Homo sapiens: one gene and its partners. The protein of the gene in region 6 purifies or fractionates together with the protein of the main gene of each other region. This does not show direct contact. Each region holds a gene or a part of one and is shown on either strand. Other genes may lie near its edges.

Region 1 (3,500 bases), on a different chromosome or scaffold from region 6:
CTTTAGTAGCTGTTCAATACTTGTTAAATAAATGAAGGAATGAATGAATGAATGTAAGCTCTGAGAAAAGGTTATGCCTAGAGGTATCAATTTTGAAGTCATCAGATAGATGGTATCTGAAGTGATGGGATCCAATGACATTGCCTCAGAAAGGAGTGTAGATTTTTTTTAAAAAGAAGGTCTAAGACACAGCCACAGATATTTCCAACCTTTTGAGATTGAGTAGAAGAGAGGTTAGTAAAGAATACTGAGAGACAACAGCATTCAATGGGTAAGAGGAATATCAGAAGAATATGGTGTCATGAGATCCAAGAAAAAAAGACTCCATTAAGAAAGGAATGGTTAATTCTATTTCACATACCAAGAGATTAAGTAAGATGATGATGATGAGGTAATGATGGAGAAATGACACTGTATTCAACAACTTGGAGATCACAGATGATTTGACACAAAGCAGTTTCAGTAGAGTTTGGTGATAGAAAATTGAGAGAAGCAGGTTAAAAAGAAAGTGGGTGGTAAACATTTTAAGAGAGAAAGCAGAGAAAACTTCTCCAAGACTCCTGTGAAATGAAGCAGTTAATTAGGCTAGTAAGATGTTAGGAGAAATGTTGGGGGAGGGTGGAATAATGGTTCGAGGGAAGGGTTTTAAGATGGAAGATACTCCAGCATGTTTCTGTGGTGATAAAAATAAACTACTAGAGAAGGAAACAGAGTGAAGTAGGGAAAACTGACTAATTTTAGGGATATTTTGAAAGTAGGATCAATAAAACATGTTGATGGAATAGATATTGGATGTAAGAAAAGGAGAATCAACTAATTTTCAGGTTTACGACTTGAGCCATCAGGAAGACAGGAATAACTGATGAGGATAACGGGTGTGCGACATTTTTAGGGTAAAGCAGTTGAAAATCAAGACTTCTGTTTTGAACATAATAGATTTAAGATCTCTACAAGACTCAAGTAGAAATACTGGATAGGCATTTAGACATACACATCTCAAGTTTAGGGGACAGTCAGTGACTGGGGGTATAAACTTGTGAGTTGCCAACTTATTTAAAAAGTTATATAGAACTAGATGAGATGACCCGAGGGAGTATAATAAAGAAAAGAAGCTAAGGAGTGAATCATAGGGCATAGCAACATTAGGAGCTGAACGAGGAGGCTAAGAAAAAAGTGGCCATTGAGGTTGGAGGAGAAACTTGAGAGTGCCAGGTCTCTGAAGAAGGATGAAGCCAGTTGCATCAAATGCTGCTGATATGTCAAGTAATATGTAAAATAAAAATGGATATGTGGATTTGGAAATATGAAGGATATTTTTTACTTGGTGAGAGTTTTAATACATTTTTTAGAAAGAAAAATACCTTGAGTAAAGGAAAACAAGAATGAGGAAGTAAAGACAGAATGTATAGGCATATCTTTTGAGGAATTTTGCTATAAAAGGGAACAGATAAATCAGATGGTACCTAAAGGCAGATGTGAGATTGAGGGTGGGGTGGAGATGGGAAGGTAAGTGTTAGATAGATATTTCAGCATGAATATATATTGAAGGGAATGATCCAGTAGACAAAGAAGAATTAATGATGCATATGAGAAAGTAGGCAACTGCAAAAGCAAAGTGTTTGGGTAGGCAAGAGAGAGTGGGGCTCAGTGCCAAAGTAAAGGACAGGAGGAGCACAGACTGTTTATTACCCTAAATAAAGTGAAGGCAAGGTATATGGATAGAAATGTAGTAGGTTGGGAGATCAGATATTAGGAGAATGAGGAAACTCTTTTCCAATGGCTTCCAAGTTCTCAGGAATCAAAATCAAGGACATCAGAGATAAAGGAAAGAAGAAGTTGTTGAAGCTTTGGCCAGTGGGTATAAGAAAAAGTAGGACAAGTGGATGTATCCAAGGGGCATTTGGGGAGATTAAACATAATGTCTAACCAAGGTAAAAAGGGAAGTGAGTACATAAAGCAGTAAATAGAGAGGTTAAAGAATTATTGACATCAGCGTACAAGAGAAGGTCAAAGAGTGAGATCCTTCAGAAAGAGATTTTGCATATGTTGCAAGTAACGATAAGTTCAGAGAATACAATATCATCATAAATAAGACTGGCTGAAAATAATCATAAACTTTAAAATGCATTTGTAAGAAGCATATACCTGTAATTTTTTAAATTCAATCTTTACAATCTATATTTTAACTGGCAAGATATGGTCTATTTTACATGTATTGTAATTAGTAATAATAAAATTATTTGTAATTCTATTAATTTATTTTATGCTTTCTGTTTACCCTTCTTTTTCTATGCTTCTTATTTTCTTCTTTCCTGGCTTCTGTTGAATTATTAAAGTTTCTTAATTCCCCTTTTTCATCTCTAATGGTTTAGAAATTATAAATTCTATTATTTTAGTAAATACCCATAAACTTACCCAAATACATATATCACTTAACCACAGCAAAATTCATTAATATCTAATTCCTCTTACCAAACAAACCAAGGTCCAAAAATGTTTTAGTTGTGACTGCTACAGTAATCTCCTTCACATTGTTTTCTACAGTATTTTAGTTTCACCTGGTTTTGTAAGTCCTAATAAAGTTATAATTCTTTATATAATACACACTTAGATTTATTGACATGCTTACTAATTTCTTCACCAATGAGATAAACTGAACATTCCTTAAATGGCAAAATGAAACCCAGTCAGAAAAACCTTTCTCTTTAAATATTGAAGAGCTATTAAATCCATCCTATACAATGAAATATTATAAACTTCATGAAATGTTTAAAAAACAAATAAAAAATTGAATGAACTTTCATTGAGTATCTTGTCATATGGCTAACTGGCTTTCAGAGAATTGTGTCTTAGCAAATTAATCATTTATTAAGTTAGCTTTTGGGGAAGTAATTTTCAGTAAATTTGTATAAGTAAATTTTACTGCTTAAAACCAGTCAGCCTTTCTAAATTCTTGTTGCTAGCAATGGCAAGATCAGCAAGAGGGATGATCTTACCTAGAGCACACTGAGGTCTGTGAGACTACTAAGTCCAGCTGTAAGTGGGCACAAGGCCAAAAAATGGGCAATTTTATTTAAGTCAGGAAAACTCTATTCATTTGTTTTATGTAGATGGTAGAGAAAAGTTTCTCATGTCCATCTTCCATTCTTAAAGATGGATTACTTAGAGGAAAATGTAGGTTTAAAATGTGGAAAATGATTGTAATAATATAACCTAGAAAAAAAGATGTATAAAAAAGTGCATTTTCATTTCTTCTTTCTAGGTTCACATTTATTGCCAAAAGATGTCTACTCTCCTGGAAAACATCTTTGCCATAATTAATCTTTTCAAGCAATATTCAAAAAAAGATAAAAACACTGACACATTGAGTAAAAAAGAGCTGAAGGAACTTCTGGAAAAGGAATTTCGGCAAATCCTGAAGGTAAGAGTCTCTGACAAGACCAAAGATAGAGCATTTGTTTTTCTCATCAATAATCTAAGCAAGGGTTATTTTGAGCTCT
Region 2 (3,500 bases), on a different chromosome or scaffold from region 6:
ACCAGCCTGGTGAAACCGTGTCTCTACTAAAAATACAAAAATTAGCCAAGCATGGTGGTGGATGCCTGCAATCCCAGCTACTTGGGAGGCTGAGGCAGGAGAATTGCATGAACCCAGGAGACGGAGGTTGCAGTGAGCAAAGAACACACCATTACACTCCAGCCTGAGTGACAGAGTGAGACTCTGTCTCAAAAAAAAAAAAAAAAATTAGTTGAGTGTGGTGATGCATACCTGTAGTCCCAGCTAGTCGGAAGGCTGAAGCAGGTGTATCGCTTGAGCCCAGGAGTTCAAGGCTGCAGAGCGAGACCCTGTCTATTTTTTTTATTTTTTATAGACAGAGCTTTCCTCTTGTTGCCCAGGCTGGAGTGCAATGGTGCGATCTCGGCTCACTGCAACCTCTGCCTCCTGGGTTCAAGTGATTCTCTTGCCTCAGACTCCCGAGTAGCTGGGATTACAAGTATGCACCACCATGCCTGGCTTTTTTTTTTTTTTTTTTTTTTGTATTTTTAGTAGAGACGGGGTTTCACCATGTTAGCCAGGCTGGTCTTGAACTCCTGACCTCAGGTCATCCACCTGCCTTGGCCTCCCAATGTGCTGGGATTACAGGCATGACCCTGTCTCTATTAAAAAAAAAAAAAAAAAAAGCCATACTGGGAAGCCACATGTTCTATATAGTTATTCCACATGTTCTCTCTACTTTTTGTCTTCTAAACTTTCTCTATCCTTCTACTGTGCTGCTCACGTTTCCCAACTCTATCACGGCATACACGTCCTGAAGAGCTAGACTTTACAAAGAAAGATAAGTACAAAAGTGAAAGAATGGGTTGGATGTCATAGCTGGGGCATATTTGCTGATGACCCAAATTATGTTGTTTCCCTTCCTTTCCAGGCTGACCTGATCCCCAAGTTATACCTTTCCCTTCCCCAGGTTTCCCTTGGCTTCTCCCCCTCCCAGCAGCTTCCAGGAGCAGAAGTGGAGCTGCAGCTGCAGGCAGCTCCCGGATCCCTGTGTGCGCTCCGGGCGGTGGATGAGAGTGTCTTACTGCTTAGGCCAGACAGAGAGCTGAGCAACCGCTCTGTGAGTAACTGTCTGCTGACAGAGTGGGAGGAGGGAGTTGATGGAGAAGACAATTAAGAGGTAGGTTTCAGGCAGGGGAGAGAAAGTCTTAGGGAAATAATGCACTGCCATAAGGCGGTAAAAAGGCTGGTGTGAAAATGAAGTTAGAAAGTGTAAGAGGGCTGGGCACGGTGGCTCACGCCTGTAATCCCAGTGCTTTGTGAGGCCGAGGCTGGCAGATCACCTGAGGTCGGGAGTTCGAGACCAGCCTGACCAACATGGAGAAACTCTGTCTCTACTAAAAATCCAGAAAAAAAAAAAAAAAATTAACTGGGCATGGGCCCATGCCTGTAATCCTGGGGAGGCTGAGGCAGGAGAATCACTTGAACCTGGGAGGCGGAGGTTGTATCATTGCCCTCCAGCCTGGGCAACAAGAGCAAAACTCTGTCTCAAAAACAAAAAAAAAAAAACAAAAACAAAAAAAGAAAGGATAAGAGAAAGGCATGGTTAGTATGAATGCAGAGACAAGAAAAGAGAATGAGCCTGTAATCCCAGAACTTTAGGAGACCAAGGCAGGCAGATCACCTGAGGTCTGGGGTTCAAGACCAGCCTGACCAACATGGTGAAACCCTGTCTCTACTAAAAATACAAAAATTAGCCAGGCATGGTGGCGCATGCCTGTAATCCCAACTACTCAGGAGGCTGAGGCAGGAGAATTGCGTGAACCCGGGAGGCAGAGGTTGCAGTGAGCCGAGATCGTCCCACTGCACTTCAATCTGGGCGACAGAGCAAGACTCCGTCTCAAAAAAAAAACAAGAAAGAGAACGAAATAGGGGATAGGATTATGAAAAAATAGGTGAGATAGAGGTTAAAGTTTTAGACAGTGAGAAAGGTAATTATGACAGAATGAATATAAAAATAATTCTGAAGTAATAAAGAGAAATGATACAGGAGTAGTGAACTGAGCACCAGAATCTGAGAGAAGTTTCTCAACTGATATCACTATATCAATGCTTTATTTCCTCTCCCCCTCTTGTCCCAGGTCTATGGGATGTTTCCATTCTGGTATGGTCACTACCCCTATCAAGTGGCTGAGTATGATCAGTGTCCAGTGTCTGGCCCATGGGACTTTCCTCAGCCCCTCATTGACCCAATGCCCCAAGGGCATTCGAGCCAGCGTTCCATTATCTGGAGGCCCTCGTTCTCTGAAGGCACGGACCTTTTCAGCTTTTTCCGGGTAGGTCTTCTTACCCATTTTGTTCTTATGGGAAAGATGGTGGTGGGAATGGGCAAAGGAAAGTTCATATCTAAGAAAGCAGAGAGACTCATATGGGCACTGATGGGAACAAAATCTTGAAAGAAGCTTCTGACGTGTAAGGTCGCCTCTGTTGGCCCTTATGCTTGAAGAAGATGTCCAACCTAGTCTTCCTCTTTTTGTTGTCCTCAAACACTGATTTCCATGAGATCAATCAGGAGGGAAAATTAGAGAAGGTAGACCAGAGGTCTCTTATCATTATTATAAAAAATAATTTGCACCTATTCTATGAGCAGGATTTGGGATGCTGTGTGACCCAAGTCTGACCAGGAGGTCCCTGAGGTCAGGAACTAGGTCTTGTTCATCTTTGTATTCTCTCTAATGCCTGACCCTTCATAAGGCTCATTGTATTTTTGTTGAATTGAGTACGCTGATATGGTCCCTACCCTCAGCATGTTTACAGCGTAAGTCAAATAGTAAGGACATAGCGAATAATATTTGGCAGAACCATTACATGTATGTAATGATGAAATAAGTTTAACTGAAAGCCTTTCATGCTAGCTGGAACAGAAGCCAACCAGCCTCAGTGGCTGAGTTTCAGGTAAGAACACCCAGGTTCACCATTAATTCAAAAAGAATGTTTTGTTTCAACTCTTTGATGGTGGAATTCCTGGGCAGTAGCCCTTGTAGTTGGGGAAGGGACCACCTTAATACTTATTTCTCTGATGCCTATCAGGACGTGGGCCTGAAAATACTGTCCAATGCCAAAATCAAGAAGCCAGTAGATTGCAGTCACAGATCTCCAGAATACAGCACTGCTATGGGTGGTAAGCCACCTCTGTGGTCTGTGGATTCTCTGAGATGTTAACAGTCCTGGAACTCTGCAGATTTCCTCTTGCCTCCTGTTCTTGCACTGAGCCTCTAGCCCGAGAATGCTAATGGGTTGTGGGTCACAGATGCAGGACAGTTTCCCAAGTGTTCTCTCTCTGGGGAGAGCTTTTGAAGCCTGAAGCTTATGTATCCATTCCCCGGCCAAACCTCCTTGGCTATCACTTCCCTCGATGGCCTTTGTGACTAGTTAGTTCCTCTTTGGTCCTTCCTCCTTGCCTCTGACTGGATGTTCTCTGCTTCCCTCTAAATTTCTTTCTAGTAATCCCTCCATCCCAATTTATGTCACAACAAGAAGTC
Region 3 (3,500 bases), about 55 Mb from region 6:
TTTTGTATTTTTAGTAGAGATGGGCTTTCACCATGTTGGCCAGGCTGGTCTCCAACTCCTGACCTCAAGTCATCCACCCTCCTCGACCTCCCAAAGTGCTGGGATTACAGGCGTGAGCCACCGCGCCCAGCCAAGTTCATGCCTTTTTAAAGCAAGCAGTACATGAGATTCCTCAAAACAATTATGACAAAATATTAATACTAGGCAAAATGAAGACAATTGTTGAAAAATATTGATAACTTAATCTTCTTCTTCCTTGCCAATTCTACTCCTGCCAATGAGTTTGTTTCCTATGTGATTCTCCACATAACTATTTTATTTTATTTTATTTATTTATTATTATTATTATTTTTATTTTTTTTTTTTTTGAGCTGGAATCTTGCTTTGTCGCCCAGGCTGGAGTGCAGTGGTGTGATCTAGGCTCACTGCAACCTCTGCCTCCTGAGTTCAAGCGATTCTCCTGCCTCAGCCTCTCAAGTAGCTGGGCTTACAGGCACCCACCACCACTCCCCAGCCACTTTTTATATTTTTAGTAGAAATGGGGTTTCACCATGTTGGCCAGGCTGGTCTCAAACTCCTGACTTCAAGTGATCTGCCCCACTCGGCCTCCCAAAGTGCTGGGATTGCAGGCATGAGCCACTGTGCCTAGCCCACATAACTCTTTACAATATAGAAATATATATGATTTTCCCAGTTTTTATTTTGGAAATGTGTCGATTCCTAAACCCCAACCTAAAATATCATTATTTTCAATACTTAAATATTAGCCCATCATTTTTTATCTTCAGATGTCTATAATTGGAAGCCTATATAGAAATGGTTGATGAGCCTATCGGTTGAACCACTGCAGAGAATAGAGTGATGGTCTTAGGGCATCCTGTACTTTGCATGCTCCTCCTGGAAGTAAAGAGTAAGACAGAGAATAGTAATAATCACCCATTCCAGAACTGGTTGCACAACATCACAAAAGCTTGTCCAGACTTATTAGCAAGTTAATAAAAAACTAGACTTCTTTCTAAGTACTTATAATTTAGGCTGTGGGGTAGTTCTGTTATGATACATTTGTTTTAAAATATTCTGCTTCTTTTTAAAGTGAGTTGTATGTGTCTTTGTTGTAGGGACGTGCAATTTTTGCCAGTGGCAGTCCTTTTGATCCAGTCACTCTTCCAAATGGACAGACCCTATATCCTGGCCAAGGCAACAATTCCTATGTGTTCCCTGGAGTTGCTCTTGGTGTTGTGGCGTGTGGATTGAGGCAGATCACAGATAATATTTTCCTCACTACTGCTGAGGTATTGTAAAATCCTCTAAGTTTACCAAGGGTTTAAAATACCAAGTGTGCTCAGCCTAGGTTGTCTAATGTTTTATTTATCTAGCATCTCAGCTTACTCTCTGAAAGAAGTAAAGTCTGAAGAACTTCCCAGTGGAGTATAAGGGGTGGGTAGCATGTTCATACTGACTCACAAACGAAAGGTTCTTCTTCAGTAGTCATTAGAAAAATTGTGTTTTTGATTTCTTAAGAGGAACATTTTTGTGTCTTCACACATCAGATCAAGTTCTGTGACAGTGATGGGACAATTAAAAATATTGTTTCCAGGGCTGGGTGTGGTGGCTCATGCCCCTAATCCCAGCACTTTGGGAGGCTGAGGCAGGCAGATCACTTGAGCCCAGGAGTTCGAGGCCAGCTTGGCCAACATGGTGAAACTTCATCTCTACTAAAAATACAAACATTAGCCGGGCATGGTGGTGTGTGCCTGTGATCCCCCCTGACTCAAGAGGCTGAGGCAGGAGAATTGCTTGAATCCAGGAGGCAGAGGTTGCAGTGAGCTGCGATTGCACTACTGCACTGCATCCTGGGCTACAGAGCTAGATTGTTACCTAAAAAAAAGCAAAAACAAAATTGTTTCCAAATGATGATTAAGTGGTAAATATTTCCCTGTTGAGAACAGTGCTTAATAATGAATGGCATTTTGAAGGTTTAAAGTGAAAGTCTGATATGGTATAGTGGACATGTTTATTATTCAGGGTTCAGTACAGGAGACAGAAACCACCCTAGTATTTAAGCAGAAATTAGATCAAAATAGGAAATTAGTTGTTTATAAAATCATTAAAAGAATAGGAGAAGTGAGCTCTGTCTGGGCCTTGAGGAAAGATTCTCAGAACATCACAAAGCAGGCCCACTGGGGAATCTTGTACTGTCATGAAACTGTGAAAGATCTGAGATTTTACTCTACTTGCAAGCTAACAAGTTAGCCACAATTTCATAGATATTGACAGAAGACATGAAACTCTTAGGTCAGAGACAAAGGACTTTGATAATTCCTGGCACAAGAGATATCATGAGCTGCATGTTCCTATCAGTTTCCCTCCTCCTCCCAAGCCTCAGCAGGATGATACGGTGATTGGGCATATATTTATAAAATCATGAGCTTTTTGATAATCATCAGGTTGATGTTCATCAGGTTGATATCATGTTTCAGATTTGAACAGGTAACCATTTATGGATGAGAAACTTGAGTGAATTTCTTTTCTTACGATTAAACCTTTGCAGCTGAACTGATCCAAAGAACTTGATTGATATTCAAATATTTTTATCCTGCAAATATTTTTTCCATTGTGAAGAGGAACCCCAAGAATGTAGACAAAGATTCTTATGTTACTGATGTGATCTAAAGGAGCATAATCTTGGTGGCTAGCACCCGGTGTCATTCTATGAGAACAGATGCTTGGAAGCAATAATGTTCTCCTGTCGTTTTCTTCACTGCATTAAAAAGCATGCCAGCTGATGTCACAGGTTTTCTTTAACTCAGAAAATCTTGTTAAACATAAATGGATGTCTAATTACTAAGAGAGCATGTAAAAGTAGCTTTTGCATTAAGGAAAATGTAATCATTGTCTTTTAGAATAGGCACATCAGAGTTTTGGTTACCTGCAGTAGTCAGTGTTTTCTTTCTTAAATAACTCTAGCACCCTCTAGTGACAAATTCCGTGAAAAATATTTTCAGTTTACTCTCCAAGAAAAGTAATAATCACTACCAAAAAACACTTTGAAGGAAAAAAAAAATGTGGTGTTGTCAACATACCACATCACTAATTCTTATCATAGCTAGTGATCTCTCTGGCTGCATCTCTTGGCCTTTCTACTGGTTTTCTCTTAGGCTTCAACACAATATTCCTGTTTTTTATATCATCTAAATTATGTCCCACTCATTATTTTCCTTGTCTCCTTTTCATCTCCCTTTTAAGTAAGAGTTTTTTTTCTAGCATTCATTTTTTGTTACCAGTTTTTTCTTCTCTTTTTCTTATGCTTTCAAAGATCTCATTCATTCATTCATTTCTATTATCTTCATTCTAGTAGTGGCCAAATCTGTGTATCTCTATTCTCATCTTTTTCCATATCTCCAGTTGCCTGTTGGGTAATTCCACAGACATGCCCTACTGTGTCCTTAAACACAACATTATGAAAGCCTTCCTTATCTTTCCTCACTGTCAGCATTCAC
Region 4 (3,500 bases), on a different chromosome or scaffold from region 6:
GCCAGGAGAATTGCTTGACACCAGTAGTTCCAGACCAGCCTGGGCAACATAGCAAGACCCTGTCTCTATACAAATAGATACATCTCTATCAAAATAAATAAATAAATAAAATTTTATGGGGATGAGGTGGGGGGAAATTAAATAAAATATTTCTTAAAAGGCTCTTTAGGAGAATAATAATGAAAAAAAAAACGGTTGAGAAACCCTGATATAATATGCAACTGGGATTTGGGGGCAGATAATGTTTCATACATTTTCCTATAGAACCACAAGACTGTGATCACACACGTTGACAAAAATTCCGTCAAAGCACCTGGAATGCTTCTTTAAAGCACAGCTTCTTCTCCGGGGCTGGGACAAGTGCAGCTCCAATACCCTCTGTCCCAGCAAGAAAGACTTCAGGTGCTGGAGGGAGGCAGGTGACGGTGCCCTTCATTTGTGCAGGAAGGACGAAGACCAAGTGTTTTATGACCCACTTAAAAAAATTAAGTTCAGTGCACAAATAAGACCCCATTTGCAAGAGCACACCAGTGATAAAAGGTCCTGCCGCCTGGGTAGGAAAAAGAAAGACCGACCAGAGTAGGGGAGAGTGACAGTTTAGGTTTAGCTGGTTTAAGTTTAGCTGGTTTAGGTTTATCTGGTTTAAGTTTATCTGGTTTGTGTTTAGCTGGTTTAGGTTTATCTGGTTTAAGTTTATCTGGTTTGTGTTTAGCTGGTTTAGGTTTAGCTGGTTTAGGTTTATCTGGTTTAAGTTTATCTGGTTTGTGTTTAGCTGGTTTAGGTTTAGCTGGTTTAGGTTTATCTGGTTTGTGTTTGGCTGGTTTAGGTTTAGCTGGTTTCGGTTTAGGTGGTTTGTGTTTAGCTGGTTTAGATTTAGCTGGTTTAAGTTTAGCTGGTTTAGGTTTACCTGGCTTAGGTTTTTCTGGTTTAGGTTTAGCTGATTTGTGTTTAGTTGGTTTAGGTTTAGCTGGCTTAGCGGTTACTGGTTTAGTTTAGCTGTTTCACATTTATCTGGTTTGTGTTTAGCTGGTTTGTGTTTAGCTGGTTTAGGTTTAGCTGCTTTGTGTTTAGCTGGCTTAGGTTCAGCTGGTTTGTAGGGTCAGTGGGCAGCAGGTTGCACGAGGCTCTGCCCTTGACCACCCAGTGAACTCAGTTCCAGGAAGAGGCCGACTCAGTCAGCCAGACCCTGGCGAAGCTCAACTCCAACTTGGATGCCAAGTACAGCCCTGCACCTGGGGGCCCCCCTGGCGCCCCCACAGAGCTGCTGCAACAGCTGGAGGTGAGACAACCCCACCAGGCCGTCTGCACCCCACTTCTGGGAATTGGTCCTGTCCATTTTTCTGGGCCTCACCCCTTCTGCCTTGGTACCTAGTCCTATCCCAAGCCCTGGCCTGGGTGCTGGCAGGGGGGTTTACTCTAGCAGGAGGCTGGCCAGGTACCAGCAAGCTCCTCCCACTTCTGGACGTCAGTTTCCTCATTTGCAGTGGGACAAGGGCAGCCTGGGAGAGCTCTGAGGCCTGTCTAGCTTCTGCTTGGTGGCCTGGGTGATGCTGTGCCATCCCCCTCCCTGCAACTAGCAGATCCCAGGATCCTAGGTCCCCCAGAGAGGGGCTCCTTTTACTTTGCTGACTTAGAGACCCCTGCCTTCATGAAGGCCAGCCTCTAGGCCTTTTGAAGGACAGGTATGGTGTGGCCAGCCTCCAATGCAGCCTGGCCTGAGTCCCCCACTGCCTGGGCCCCCGGCAGGCAGAGGAAAAACGGCTGGCCGTCACCGAGAGGGCCACTGGGGACCTGCAGCGGCGAAGCCGGGATGTGGCCCCTCTGCCACAGCGAAGAAACCCCCCTCAGCAGCCCCTGCACGTGGACAGCATCTGCGACTGGGACTCAGGAGAAGTGCGAACTCCCCCACCTCACCCCTGCCACCATCCAGCCCCGCCCAACCCATCCCCTGCCCCTGCCCAAGCCCATCCCTGCTCCATCCCCAGCTGTCTCCTGCGCCCACTTTTGCCCTACTCCTTCCCTTGACTCAGACCCTCCTCTCTCCAAGTCCTGTCCTGCCTCTTTTCTACCCCAGCACCTCCCACCCTACTCTTGTCCCTGTTCCAGCTGCTGTCCCCATTTGTCTCTGTCCCCAGCCCCTACTCTGCCCTGGCCTTGGCCCCCTGCCCCTGAGCCCTCAGGAGCTGCTCCCTTTCTGTGCCCCCAGGTGCAGCTGCTGCAGGGTGAGCGGTATAAGCTGGTAGATAACACTGACCCGCACGCCTGGGTCGTGCAGGGCCCTGGCGGGGAGACCAAGCGTGCTCCCGCCGCCTGCTTCTGCATCCCAGCACCAGACCCTGATGCTGTGGCCAGGGCCTCCCGGTAGGTCTGTGTAGGGATACTCAGGGGCAGGCTGTGGGCAGAGCAGGCCGGCCCTGCGGTGTCCAAGCCCATGGCCCAACAGACCCCTGCTCAAAGGCTGGCCTTCACCTGAAGCTGCGTCTACTGGGGCTGGGGAGGGAGAGAGGCAGAGTGGGGACCTCTTTCTTCAATCTCCTCTTCATTCTAGGCTGGCCTCAGAGCTGCAGGCCCTGAAGCAGAAATTGGCCACAGTCCAGAGCCGCCTGAAGGCCAGTGCTGTGGAGTCTCTTCGGCCCAGCCAGCAGGGTACCCAGGGTGGCCCGGGGAGAGGTGGCTGTGGGGCTAGAAGGAGTAGATTCCGACTTCCGACTGGTCTGTGATGGGCAGGGGTCGCCTTGGGTTAGGGACCATCACTCTGGGGATTTCATCTCTGGGGTGGCCCTGCCCATCCCCTCCACCCTACCCCGACAGGACCCTCTGTGGGCACCTGGTGGGGGCACCTATCTGGCAGTCTGGAGATAGGCCCTGGGCCCTCACCAGCACCTCTGCCCCCAGCTCCATCTGGCTCAGACCTGGCCAACCCACAGGCCCAGAAGCTCCTGACACAGATGACCCGGCTGGATGGAGACCTGGGACAGATAGAGAGGCAGGTGCTGGCCTGGGCGCGGGCCCCGCTGAGCCGCCCCACACCCTTGGAGGACTTGGAGGGCCGCATCCACAGCCATGAGGTGGGTGAGCAGCGGGAAGGGGCGGCTGGGATGAGAAGCGGCCCGGCCCTGGTGCTCACACTTGAGGGAGGTGAGGCAAGTGCAGGAGCGGTGGCTGGGATGGAGATGGAGAAGGGTGTGGACAGACCCGGGCTCAGACAAGCTGGTTCCCCTCCTGGCTCCTCCACTGACCAGCTCCAGGATCTTGGACTACATAACTCTCTGGGCCTTGGTTTCCTCATCCCTGAAGCAGATGTAATAATGCCCAGCTCGCCTGATCATTCAGGAAGGTTCCAGTAGGGCCCAATGTCAACACCCCAGGAGGTATTCTGGTGAAGCTCCTGAAATAGCAAGGAAGCCTGGAGAATCTTAGGAAGAGATGTCCCCTGGCTGCAAGGGGGAGCCTACCTGGGGAGGTTGCAGCATTGTGTAAACTCCTTACCCAAGAACAGC
Region 5 (3,500 bases), on a different chromosome or scaffold from region 6:
AGAACAAAGCATGTGATTTTTGAGTGATTTTTCTTGACTGTCAACATACCGATAACTGATCAGTTGTTGATATTTATTAGATGATCATTGCCAAGTTTGAAGTGACTGAAGAGTTAGCCTCTGAATCATCTGTATAAAACAACTACAGGCGAGGATGTTTTCGAAGAAGCTGAGAAAATAATGATTGAGTATAACCTGGAATGGAATCTGCTAAGATCTATAAAAATTGACAGTAGTAAAAATATTTGTGAGTAGAAAAAGGCGGAGTTGAGCAAATTCACAAAACTTGTGAACATGCGAGGTGTTTAAAGCTCATGGTTATTTATTATAGTATTCCTTTTCAGATATTTTGTGGAAAATATTGGAATCTCACATGTGTTATTGAACCGGCAATATAAACCATGAGCTTCATTTGCTCTTGTGGATATAACCGTCATCATTTCTGTGAATTATCAGAAATAGAGGCCGGATATCCTGATGTCTCTTGTGACAGAGCCATTAGATAGCTTGCTAGCTGTAAAGTTTTGCAGTCTTTGAGTTCACAGTTGAGACTGAAGTTTTTCTAAACGAGCTGCCCCCAGCCACTATTACTGAACACGAATGGCTTTGGAAATTAGCTTTTGCTACAGACTTGATATTGTTTCTTAATGAATTCAACGCAAAATTACCAGACAAAGCCAGACATATGTGAGAAACTTACAGTGTGGTAAGGCAAATTTGACAGCTAATGTTTGAATCACAGGTAATGTCAACCTACTTTATATATTCCCCATGTTATCAAAAGTTAAAACAAGGTGCTAGACCTCCATTCTTACACAGCTGTCCAGCAGATACATTTTCTGTGCTCAAGCTACAGTTCCAGGAGTTTTCTGAGCTCAAGCTACAGTTCCAGGAGTTTTCTGAGCTCAAGCTACAGTTCCAAGAGTTTTCTGAGCTCAAGCTACAGTTCCAAGAGTTTTCTTACCTACTCTACTTTATCTTATTTTGGATTTGTACTTTTTTAAAACAATTATTTTACTTTCACAGAACTGGTTCTCCAGAGGAAAGGAGATAAAGACACTTGATATGTTGAATGAGTAACAAAAGAATCATAAATCTGTGTGGACTTTTTTTGATAAGTTTAGGAGAAGGTTCCATTTTGCCACTAAGCTTGGACAACTTCCCCTAAAAGAGTCTGTTCATTCCTTGTCTCAGGCAGTGACGTCAGTGTTGGGGGCCGTCCTCACCTCAAGGAGCGCAGAGTCTGGTATTGACAAGGAACGCAAACAGATGATTATAAAGCAGTGTCATAAACATGTTGATGAGAGTGTGCACAAATGCTGTGGGAGGAAAGGAGGGTATGAATATTTTCATATGGAAGATAGATGAAGACTTCACAAGAAAGAAAATGCTTGAACTGAATCTTGGAAGTTAGAACCAGCAGTTCACCAGGTGGGGAAAAGGCATTCTAGCAAGAGGGAATAGCACAGACACAGGCATGGAAGGGTGAGAGATGATAGGAAGTGCCTGCGTATGGCTATAAATACTAAGGGGAGTGTCAGGAGATGAGGCTGGGATGGTAAGTTACCATGGAAAGATGATGAAGGGCCCTGTGCTGTGTGCCCTGAAAATCTGGTTTGGGAGGCAAATCCCAGGACAGGTTGCAACACACATGGCTGGTAAGTGCAGATAATACATCCTATCAGGTCATTTACTTTTAGTGCTAAGTCAGCCTCTCTAACATAAATATTTTCCATCTACTTTGTTACATTTGTTCGTTACTCAATATATTTGAAATATTAGAGCCAAATTATAACACCTAGCACTTTTACAAATTGAATTGAAACTGAAAATCCACTTAATGGTTTAGGATTTTAGAAGTTTTCTTGGAAAGAAAAGACTTATTTTAAGAGGCATTGAAACGTATAAAAGAGCAATATCAGACTTGATGTTGTCTTCACAGATTAACTACTTTTGAAATTGCTTATTCCGTTGGCAAGCATTTGTTATTTTCTGAAACTTAATTTTCTTTGCTTTTCAGTGGACAGAGGACTGCAGAAAATCAACCTATCCTCCTTCAGGACCAACGTGAGTAAACATCAGATGATCAAAACTCCCTTTGACCTTTGTGAAGTTTTTTCTGTATGTAATAATTGCTCATAAACGAACGATAGTGAATAAAATCTTAAGTCATGTTTCCCATTCCGAGACAGAGGTTTGTTTCTCAGATTTGTTTATTATGCATTTGGCTGAGATCTTGGACAAATATGAAAATATCTTCCGATTCAAATGCCCGTCGCTAGACTATCAAAATCATCGGAAAGAAAAGGATTTTCAGCCAGACGCGGTGGCTCACGCCTGTAATCCCAGCACTTTGGGAGGCCGAGGCGGGTAAATCATAAGGTCAGGAGATCGAGACCATGCTGGCTAACAGTGAAACCCCGTCTCTACTAAAAATACAAAAAATTAGCCAGGCGTGGTGGCGGGCGCCTGTAGTCCCAGCTACTCTGGAGGCTGAGGCAGGAGAATGGCGTGAACCCGGGAGGCGGAGCTTGCAGTGAGCCGAGATCGCACCACTGCACTCCAGTCTGGGCGACAGAGTGAGACTCTGTCTCAAAAAAAAAAAGGAAAGGATTTTCATTCTCCACTCAATTCTCCTGTCTACCATGAAGGGTTTTTCTCATCTTTGACAAATGTAAGGGCTGTATTTGAAATGACCTGTGATTCTCTATGGTGCCTGGATATAAACCACCAAATTATATTGTAACAAAAAAGCATAGGCCCTCATATGTGAAACGTTCTCAAAATAAACCTTGGCACAACAAAGCTGTCGAGGACAAAACAGGATTGGAACACCTAAGAGGAGGACCAATGTCATGATTCAGTGTGTTTAACATTAATATTTTTAGTCTAGATTTTGGTCTTTCCAAATCCTCAGTGTTTAAATGGGCCTGTGAGAAAGCCATAATAACAGCTCACAGACCCCTCAGAGTGTACAGAACAGAGAAAAGAAGGAACAGGTATAGGGGGTGGTGATCTTTTTCTCCTACACTGCCCTTTCGCTGAAAGTAGCCTGCTGTTTGTAGGGGGAAACAGTACAACTCTATCTAGTGATATCAAGATGACATTTTCAGTTCGTGCAACATTCCAAATTACTTACGTTGTACTGTTGTTGTCTAAACGATGTATTTTAAATAGCCTCTGTCCCAGATAGCGTGAAACTGTAATAAACTAAGTTCTTTTGACTTACTCGCCTTTATGTAGAAAGAGGCCAGTATTTGGCAGGAAGCAATTTAGAGGTAACCAGTTTGGATGTTGTTTGGGGCCAGTGTTCATTCCAGCTCTTTCTTCAATGGCCTGCTGTCTGAAAGTCTTCCTTTCTGTCATCACTGGCATCATTCTGGCCTTCAGTGACATGTCTGCCTTACTGATTGATTATGTCTCTCTGTTGGTCTCACTGCCCCAATTCATTGAACATTTAATGAGGTGCCTTCCATGTTTGAGGCCGTTTCTACTCCCTT
Region 6 (4,284 bases):
TATTTATTTCTTTTGGCCATTTTCTCTATTGGGTTATTGGTTATTCTCAACTTTTAGGAGCTCTTTAGGTATTTGGAAAACTAGCCCTTGCCTGTGATATGTTGCAAGCCTTTTTCTTTCCTTATTTTTTTTTGACAAGCAATACATTTTATTTTCATGTAGCCAGATTTATTATTTTTATGGGTTTTAGATTTTGAGTCATATGGTTAGATAATGTTTCCCTATTCCCACGTGTTAGAATTATTATTCATGTTTTCTTCTAATACATGTATAGGTGGATTTTTTATATTTAGATCTCAGATCCATTTAGAATTTATCTCTATTGTGATGTGTGGTGGGAAATACAAATCCAGTTTTACCTTTGCCAAACGGTTATCATCCCAGCACAACTTCTAAGTTCTTCATTTCCCTGTTGATATGTGGTGTCACCTTCATCATTTACTCAATATCCTTACATACCTGGATCCATTTCTGGTCTATTCTTTCTCTCTGTTAATACACTAAAATTATATGGGTATGTTCCAGTATCTGATAAGGTTGACCCTCACCATTTTTCTTTTTCATGGGTTTCCTGGCTATTCTTATTTCCCCACATGAATTTTATAATCAGTTTATCTAATTCCAGAACAATATTTGTTGATATTTTTGTTGGAATACTACAGTTGCATACGTATTTAGGGAGGACTGACCTCTTTGAGTCTTTCCAAGAACCTCATATCGCTTTCTGTTTGTTTAAATGTATACTTGGCCTTTTAGGAATGTTTTAAAGCTTTCCCCATAGAAGTTTTGTTCATTTCTTGTTAAGTTTATTCCTAGTTTCACTTTTTTGCTGCTCTTGTAAATATGGTCTTCTCTTCCATTATATCTCGTAACTCGTTATCATTGATTATTCACATATATGAAGGTCGTTGATTTTAGTGTGTTAACTTTATATCTTGCTATTTTACTAAATTATCCTTTTTTTATAGTTTTTCCATTGAACCGGGTTTTCTGACATATAATCATACATCAGCACATAAAAGAGAACATCAAAAGAATCGTGGATGGCGAAAGAGCCGGCAGAAACCAGCCGGCTGGCCCTTGAGAAGTCTGTGTGGAAGAAGTCCCTTCGCCACCGCTAAGCGCGGATTTGGGAAGGTCCCCCGGAGAACATCCCTTTGAGGCATCTCTAACCTCAGAGACACAGAATCCCAAAGTGAATGGAGACGCAAGGGATTTCCCTGTCTTAAGATCAGTTCTACAAGCCTCGACCACCCATCGGGTCGGGGGAAGTGTGGACAATGGCTGGGTAAAGAAGAGGAGAAGATAAACCCGTTCCATTTACCAGCGGGCCTGAAAGCCATCAACCTTCCTCTCACGTAGACGCGCGGAAACACTACCGAGTTGAAAGCCCCTTTCGCTCCCTTCCTAGAGCGGCCGCGGAAGTGCGCCCCGCGCGGGCTGGTTCTTAGACCCCCCGTGGCCGCTTCCGGCCTTTGTGGGTCACTTTTGATGGGTTCCGGGTCCCAAAAGGGTTCGAGGCCTCTTGCCTTCGCTCCGTAGGAGGGAGTTCTCTTCTGGCCCTGGGGGCCGCAGGTGAGCGATGTTGTGCTCTGTACGCTGCGAGCAGGTGGGCGGGAGATTGCTGTATTCCAGCTGCTGGGCCCCTCAGGCCCTGGCCGGTGCAGAGTGGACCCCGGTCCTCCCAAACCCAGGCGGATCCGCGGGAAGCTCTCCCTCCCCAAAGTGCGTTGGGACATTAGGATGAGGGTTTGGCTCCCAGTCTCTGCAGCAATTCCAGGCTGTAAGGCCCATACCTTCCGCGTTTGCTTCGGGCTGTGTATCCTTGGGTTCAGCGCTTACCGACATTTCTGGACAGTGGTGGGTCACAGACGCTCGCCGGCGTCCTAGGGACCCTTTCCTGGGCCTTCCTCACTTCAGATTATAATCACAGACCACGAGGTTAGAGGGAAGCCTTAAAGAGTAACCTCTTCAGCCTTCTCACTTTATAAATGAAGAATGAGGAGCAGAAAGATTAAGTCCCTGAAGAAATAAATTTACATGACTGTAGCTTTTGTGATTTCATGGTTTCCACCAGACATCTGGACATTCAAAAGATAAAAGTAACTAATCAAGGATGTCCTAACCTTTTGTTATTATTATTTACTTGATCTAAATGTTAGTTTTATTCCATTTGTCTTTCATTTAGGACCAAATGAGAATAAGTTTACCAACAAGTCTTACTCTTAAGTCCTGAAACAACTTGGCACCTTTCCTCAGTCTTTCTCTTTAAATTAGTCTAATCTTTTTTTTTTTTTTTGAGACGGAGTCTCGCTCTGTCGCCCAGGCTGGAGTGCAGTGGCGCGATCTCGGCTCACTGCAAGCTCCGCCTCCCGGGTTCACGCCATTCCCCTGCCTCAGCCTCCTGAGTAGCTGGGACTACAGGCGCCCGCCGTCACGCCCGGCTAATTTTTTTTTTTTTTTTTTTTTTGTATTTTTAGTAGAGACGGGGTTTCACCATGTTAGCCAGGATGGTCTCGATCTCCTGACCTCGTGATCCGCCCGACTCGGCCTCCCAAAGTGCTGGGATTACAGGCGTGAGCCACTGTGCCCGGCCTAAATCGGTCTAATCTTAAGTCTTTTCTATCAGAGTATTTTTCTGAGTAAGTATTGTACATTAATCCGGAGGTCAGATTTCAAAGGTCATAGTTAAGTTCTCAGAATTTGCAGTTTTACTTTATGGTGGAGTTTGTATTAATAATGATGGCTTATTCTTCAGGACTGTCCAGGAATACAGTTTCCAGGTGAGATCTTACTTGAAACACCGGTAGTTCTAGCACAGCTAAAATGGCATCTACTTGGGCTATCCAGGCCCACATGGACCAGGATGAACCTTTGGAAGTAAAGATAGAGGAAGAGAAATATACCACCAGACAGGATTGGGACCTGCGTAAAAACAACACCCATAGCAGAGAGGTCTTCCGTCAGTACTTCAGACAGTTCTGCTACCAGGAGACATCTGGTCCCCGTGAGGCTTTGAGCCGACTCCGAGAACTTTGCCATCAGTGGCTGAGGCCAGAGACCCACACCAAAGAACAGATTCTGGAGCTGCTGGTGCTGGAGCAGTTCCTGACCATCCTACCTGAGGAGCTCCAGGCCTGGGTGCAGGAGCAGCATCCAGAGAGTGGGGAGGAGGTGGTGACTGTGCTGGAGGATTTAGAGAGAGAACTGGATGAACCAGGAGAGCAGGTGAGAAAAAAGATGTGACTTCTGCTTGAGAAAACATAAATTGTGGATTTCTAGGCCAGAGTGAAGAACAGCCATTTTTTCACAAAGCATGTTTTTGACAGTTTGGTGCATCAGAAAGGGGCATGAGTTTCACGGAAAGTTGGCTAATGTGGTCCCAACTTATTTATAACTTTTCTGTGGAAGGATTTTATATTTCTCTATTAAGCTACAAAATTCTGTTTGATAAACATGCTGCTCATCTTAGAAAACTTCTAAGACAAGAGAAAGTATCAAAGAGATGACAGTAGCAGGATGGGAAGCAGTCTCTTGGAGGGGCATCACTCTGTTGCACAATACAAATAATTAAGAATTAAGGTTTTGCAGATATATCCATTGCTCTGACTCCATTACAGGGTTTTAAAATGAAGACATTAACTATTTCAGGGGAATGAGATGTGGGAGTACAATGGAAAGTTAGTGAGGAGAGCAGGGTGGGGAATCTGTGTTTCTTTGAGTAGCAGAAAGCCCAGTTAGGTTGGAAAGGTGAATTCCAAATAGCAGAGTTGAGATAGTGTCCAGGACCTTGAATCTCAACCTCTGGAATTGAGATTTTATTCTGTAGGACAGATGCCCCTAACCTTTTCTCCTTGAGTCTAAATGAGCTTTACTAATTGTAAGATGTAAAAGAGAACCAAATTATGTAGAACGTTTTTGTTTTGTTTTTAATACTAAAATGAGACAGTGGTTCTCAACCAGTGCCAATTTTGTGCACCAGAGGGCATTTGGCAATGTCTTGGGACATTTTTGGTTGTTATAACTTGGGGAGGTGCTGCTAGTATCTAGTGGATCACTCGGGGAGGTGCTGCTAGTATCTAGTGGGTAGAGAGGGCAAGGCTAATGCTAAACCTCTTAAAACACACAGGACAGCCCCAGACAACAAAGTCAGTAGAGCCAATGCTAGGAACATGTCAGTAGAGCCAATGCTGGGAAACCCCGGTATAAAGAGTTTGAAACTTAGGGAAATAATGAAACAGAAGTATAATCTAGCACTGTGATACAAAATGCAATAGAGAGGGT
Region 7 (4,207 bases), on a different chromosome or scaffold from region 6:
TATAATTCTTAAACTGCTTGTGCTTAGTCCAATGCTGGGTACATACAGAACCGCTGATAAGCTGGAGCTGTAATTATTATTATTATTATTATTATTATTACCACCATCGCTATTATCATCATTAACGAGTCAGAGATGGAATAACAGGGAAGTAGGAGCTGAGGAGGACAGATGGGGATAGTGTTTACAAGGTAAGAAGTGTTGGATGTTATAAGCTGGGGTGCGGATATTGGGGTGGAGAGAAGAGAGAGACTGACTGAGAGACATTGAGAAAGGCTGATGGAAACTGGCCCCTCCTAACTGGGCGATGAACCCCAGTGATACGAAACAGTGGGAGGCCCTGTGGCCCCTGGGAATAGAGAAGCAGCCACACTTGCTGGGCAGGGGTGAGGCGGGGGGAGGCTCCCAGGTTCTGTATCCCGAGCTGGGACTGGGGAGAGGGCCGTGGCTCTCACGGATGGCTCCTGACCTTGCGCTACCCTCTTCTCGCTTGCCATTGCTGCCCTGGCCCCTGGCCTGGGGGATGGGTGGGGTGAGCTGGCCCAGTCCCGCCCCTCATAGGCGCTTATACTCACACGTGCCCCTCTAGGGCTGCGTAAACAGGATGGGTGCCTGGGTCAGCGGCTCCCTCCCTTGGCCTTCCCTCCCACTCGTTCCCTGGGGGTGGCTGGCGCGCCTGGCTGCCCTGCTCCGCGCCCAGCTTTCTCAGCCGGGAGCAGCCTGAACGCTGAGACACCCTGCTGACCACTCAAAGGGCTATGGCCACCTCCTTCCCCGACACCGAGGGTCCCCCCGGGGGCTCTCCCCAGAATCTCAGAAACTGACACGCAGCCCCGTGTTTGCCAGTCTCTCTCTGTGGGCTGGAAGGTGTGGAGGAACAAGAAGGCAGTCACCTGTAGGTGGCAATGCGGGAGGGGAGAGGGAGAGGAGAGGCTGAGGTGCTGAAACCGAGAAAGGCCAGGCCGAGGACGGGCAATGCCTGTCACTCTGGAGCCCCTGAGCCAGGCTGGCTGAGCCTGGGTGGGTCCTGTCCCCTGGGGCTTCCCTGTCCTTACTCCTTTGGTGGGGTCCTGCCAGTAACTCCTCTCTTCTAAGTCTGCCCCCACCCCACCGCCTCCAGGAGCCAACGACAACCTGTCTCCTTAGATGCCCCTGCCCCCACCCAGCTCCCCGAATGCCTGGGGTTGGGAAATGGGAGCACTTTTGCATCACCTCATCCATTTCTCCCTCCCTCCCTGATGCGGCTCACTCTCTGTTTCGACAGAGACTCTCAGACTCACAATAACAGCTGATTACCCTATTGGTGGCTGGGCCCTGAGTCACTGCGGGGAGGGACCTCAGGTTGCCCAGCCCTGTCACCTTCTCCCAACCTAGAGTATAAGGAGTAGTGACAGGGAGGTGGACTCTGAGAAGCCCAGGCAGTTGAGGACAGGAGAGAGAAGGCTGCAGACCCAGAGGGAGGGAGGACAGGGAGTCGGAAGGAGGAGGACAGAGGAGGGCACAGAGACGCAGAGCAAGGGCGGCAAGGAGGAGACCCTGGTGGGAGGAAGACACTCTGGAGAGAGAGGGGGCTGGGCAGAGATGAAGTTCCAGGGGCCCCTGGCCTGCCTCCTGCTGGCCCTCTGCCTGGGCAGTGGGGAGGCTGGCCCCCTGCAGAGCGGAGAGGAAAGCACTGGGACAAATATTGGGGAGGCCCTTGGACATGGCCTGGGAGACGCCCTGAGCGAAGGGGTGGGAAAGGCCATTGGCAAAGAGGCCGGAGGGGCAGCTGGCTCTAAAGTCAGTGAGGCCCTTGGCCAAGGGACCAGAGAAGCAGTTGGCACTGGAGTCAGGCAGGTTCCAGGCTTTGGCGTAGCAGATGCTTTGGGCAACAGGGTCGGGGAAGCAGCCCATGCTCTGGGAAACACTGGGCACGAGATTGGCAGACAGGCAGAAGATGTCATTCGACACGGAGCAGATGCTGTCCGCGGCTCCTGGCAGGGGGTGCCTGGCCACAATGGTGCTTGGGTGAGTGGCTGTGGGGCTGCATGTGGAAATGGGAGGCTGTGGGCTGCTGGGCTGAGATTCTTGGGAAACGGTTGAAAGGATGGATGGATCTCTTACTTGCAGGCTTCTGGGGCAGCTTCCTTCTATGTTCTGCCCCCCTCCTATGCCACCCTGGAGTCCCTCTGCCTGTCTCTCTCCTGGTCTCTTTATGATTTGCCCTGGCTCTTCTCTACCAGGGTCAGAGATGGTCCCACTAAGTGCAGGTATGTTGTTCTTGCAGGAAACTTCTGGAGGCCATGGCATCTTTGGCTCTCAAGGTGGCCTTGGAGGCCAGGGCCAGGGCAATCCTGGAGGTCTGGGGACTCCGTGGGTCCACGGATACCCCGGAAACTCAGCAGGCAGCTTTGGAATGAATCCTCAGGGAGCTCCCTGGGGTCAAGGAGGCAATGGAGGGCCACCAAACTTTGGGACCAACACTCAGGTAAAGTCACCCCCAGACCTGCTACCTGCCACCTCCCTCCCTCCAAGCCCACATGCTCCGCGTGCCTCCCTGGTCCCTCTGGATCCTACTCTCAGTCTCACCCTCTCTGCAGGGAGCTGTGGCCCAGCCTGGCTATGGTTCAGTGAGAGCCAGCAACCAGAATGAAGGGGTAAGAGGAAGGGGCTGGGAACAAATGAAGAAGCCACTGGGTGCAGGCTACAGAGAGCTGGGGAAAGACAAAGAGGAAAGCAAGATGGGGGAGTGGAGGGATTGGGGTGAGAGGAAGAGATGGGGCTGGGCGAGGTGGCTCACACCTGTAATCCCAGCACTTTGGGAGGCCAAGGCACGTGGATCACCTGAGGTCAGGAGTTCAAGACCAGCCTGGTCAACATGGTGAAACCCTGTCTTCACTAAAAATACAAAAATCAGCCGGTCATAGTGGCATGCGCCTGTAATTGCAGCCACTTGGGAGGCGGAGGCAGGAGAATCACTTGAACCTGGGAGATGGAGGTTGCAGTGAGCCGAGATCGCATCACTGCACTCCAGCCTGAGCAACAGAGTGAGACCCTGTCTCAAAAAAAAAAAAAAAAAAAAAAGGAGGAAGAGACGGGCCTGGGCCTGGGGAGGAGGCAGATGGGAAGGGGAGGTGGGAGAAACACATTAGGAGAAAGGAAGCCAAGCCCCAAAGAATGGGAGAGGCCTGGCCTGTGTCCATGGCCGAGGCCAACGTCTCCAAACTCACCGTCCCCAAACTCACCATCCCTTTCCCTCGACAGTGCACGAATCCCCCACCATCTGGCTCAGGTGGAGGCTCCAGCAACTCTGGGGTGAGTGGAGAGGGGCAACCCAGGAGTTGTGCACCAGGAGGAAATGGAGAAGTTCTGCTCCCCTTAGACTGGGCATCATGGAATATGGCCTGGGTGGAGAGGGAGGGAGGAGGGGCCCGTCTTGGTGCTCTGTCTTTAATCCCAGCCCTGCTCCCTTCCTGCCCCTCAGGGAGGCAGCGGCTCACAGTCGGGCAGCAGTGGCAGTGGCAGCAATGGTGACAACAACAATGGCAGCAGCAGTGGTGGCAGCAGCAGTGGCAGCAGCAGTGGCGGCAGCAGTGGCGGCAGCAGTGGTGGCAGCAGTGGCAACAGTGGTGGCAGCAGAGGTGACAGCGGCAGTGAGTCCTCCTGGGTGAGTTTGGCACCTCTGTGGAAGGCTGAGATGGGGTGAGGCCCTAGTGGTCCCTGCCGGGAGAGGGCTCCAAGTTTCTCTGAAAGCTGCCGCTGCCCGAGGATGGGCGGCCTCGCTGATAGTCGTCACCCTGAGGCTCCCTCAGCCTCCTGTTCCCCACCCATGCTGTGCCCCTGATGCGCGCACTATCGTTTCTGCCAGAGCCACCCCACTGCTTCTGACTCTGTATCCCTATTTTCCACTCTGTGATGGTGGGGACGTTATCCCGCCTGTCTAAGCTCTTGCAGTCAAGTCCACTTGGCAAGTCTCAGGAGACCGTGGGGTGGCGGAGAAAGAGGGGGACATGGGAGAATATGACACTTGTCTGGGAAGCTCCCAGGAGAATGGGGGCAGGACTGTGATCCGGGAGACCTACGGACGCTGACAGAGCGACGGTGCAGACGACATTCACACATGGGGCCCCTGCACGATGGGTGTGAGGGCAGGAAGGGGCGCTGTGACCCCGCAGCTGCCACCCCAGGGCCCCGGGCCTCACTGACTCCAGAGCCGGCAGTCTCTCCA

The links.
Region 1: the proteins of ZSCAN12 (region 6) and FLG purify together in Homo sapiens (affinity purification with mass spectrometry; 2 studies listed by BioGRID and IntAct, with this or other methods). This does not show direct contact.
Region 2: the proteins of ZSCAN12 (region 6) and A2ML1 purify together in Homo sapiens (affinity purification with mass spectrometry; 2 studies listed by BioGRID and IntAct, with this or other methods). This does not show direct contact.
Region 3: the proteins of ZSCAN12 (region 6) and ME1 purify together in Homo sapiens (affinity purification with mass spectrometry; one large-scale study listed by BioGRID and IntAct). This does not show direct contact.
Region 4: the proteins of ZSCAN12 (region 6) and EVPL purify together in Homo sapiens (affinity purification with mass spectrometry; 2 studies listed by BioGRID and IntAct, with this or other methods). This does not show direct contact.
Region 5: the proteins of ZSCAN12 (region 6) and ASAH1 purify together in Homo sapiens (affinity purification with mass spectrometry; one large-scale study listed by BioGRID and IntAct). This does not show direct contact.
Region 7: the proteins of ZSCAN12 (region 6) and DMKN purify together in Homo sapiens (affinity purification with mass spectrometry; 2 studies listed by BioGRID and IntAct, with this or other methods). This does not show direct contact.

Annotation. Positions count from the first base shown.
Region 1 is NC_000001.11:152,315,240-152,318,739, reverse strand, and holds part of FLG (filaggrin), read left to right. Parts: intron 1-3,262; 5' UTR 3,263-3,283; coding exon 3,284-3,421; intron 3,422-3,500.
Region 2 is NC_000012.12:8,846,621-8,850,120, forward strand, and holds part of A2ML1 (alpha-2-macroglobulin-like protein 1 isoform 1 precursor), read left to right. Parts: intron 1-889; coding exon of another isoform or gene 890-928; coding exon 929-1,078; intron 1,079-2,099; coding exon 2,100-2,294; intron 2,295-3,048; coding exon 3,049-3,139; intron 3,140-3,500. UniProt on the Homo sapiens protein: Is able to inhibit all four classes of proteinases by a unique 'trapping' mechanism. This protein has a peptide stretch, called the 'bait region' which contains specific cleavage sites for different proteinases.
Region 3 is NC_000006.12:83,221,552-83,225,051, reverse strand, and holds part of ME1 (NADP-dependent malic enzyme), read left to right. Parts: intron 1-1,118; coding exon 1,119-1,292; intron 1,293-3,500. UniProt on the Homo sapiens protein: Catalyzes the oxidative decarboxylation of (S)-malate in the presence of NADP(+) and divalent metal ions, and decarboxylation of oxaloacetate.
Region 4 is NC_000017.11:76,017,307-76,020,806, reverse strand, and holds part of EVPL (envoplakin), read left to right. Parts: intron 1-1,153; coding exon 1,154-1,279; intron 1,280-1,746; coding exon 1,747-1,893; intron 1,894-2,206; coding exon 2,207-2,361; intron 2,362-2,548; coding exon 2,549-2,646; coding exon of another isoform or gene 2,647-2,712; intron 2,713-2,895; coding exon 2,896-3,068; intron 3,069-3,500. UniProt on the Homo sapiens protein: Component of the cornified envelope of keratinocytes. May link the cornified envelope to desmosomes and intermediate filaments.
Region 5 is NC_000008.11:18,074,108-18,077,607, reverse strand, and holds part of ASAH1 (acid ceramidase isoform a preproprotein), read left to right. Parts: intron 1-2,020; coding exon 2,021-2,067; intron 2,068-3,500. UniProt on the Homo sapiens protein: Lysosomal ceramidase that hydrolyzes sphingolipid ceramides into sphingosine and free fatty acids at acidic pH.
Region 6 is NC_000006.12:28,396,948-28,401,231, reverse strand, and holds the start of ZSCAN12 (zinc finger and SCAN domain-containing protein 12), read left to right. Parts: upstream 1-1,484; 5' UTR 1,485-1,575; intron 1,576-2,465; exon of another isoform or gene 2,466-2,642; intron 2,643-2,758; 5' UTR 2,759-2,826; coding exon 2,827-3,228; intron 3,229-4,284. UniProt on the Homo sapiens protein: May be involved in transcriptional regulation.
Region 7 is NC_000019.10:35,510,850-35,515,056, reverse strand, and holds the start of DMKN (dermokine isoform 2 precursor), read left to right. Parts: upstream 1-1,407; 5' UTR 1,408-1,581; coding exon 1,582-2,007; intron 2,008-2,266; coding exon 2,267-2,467; intron 2,468-2,579; coding exon 2,580-2,636; intron 2,637-3,243; coding exon 3,244-3,294; intron 3,295-3,463; coding exon 3,464-3,646; intron 3,647-4,207. UniProt on the Homo sapiens protein: May act as a soluble regulator of keratinocyte differentiation.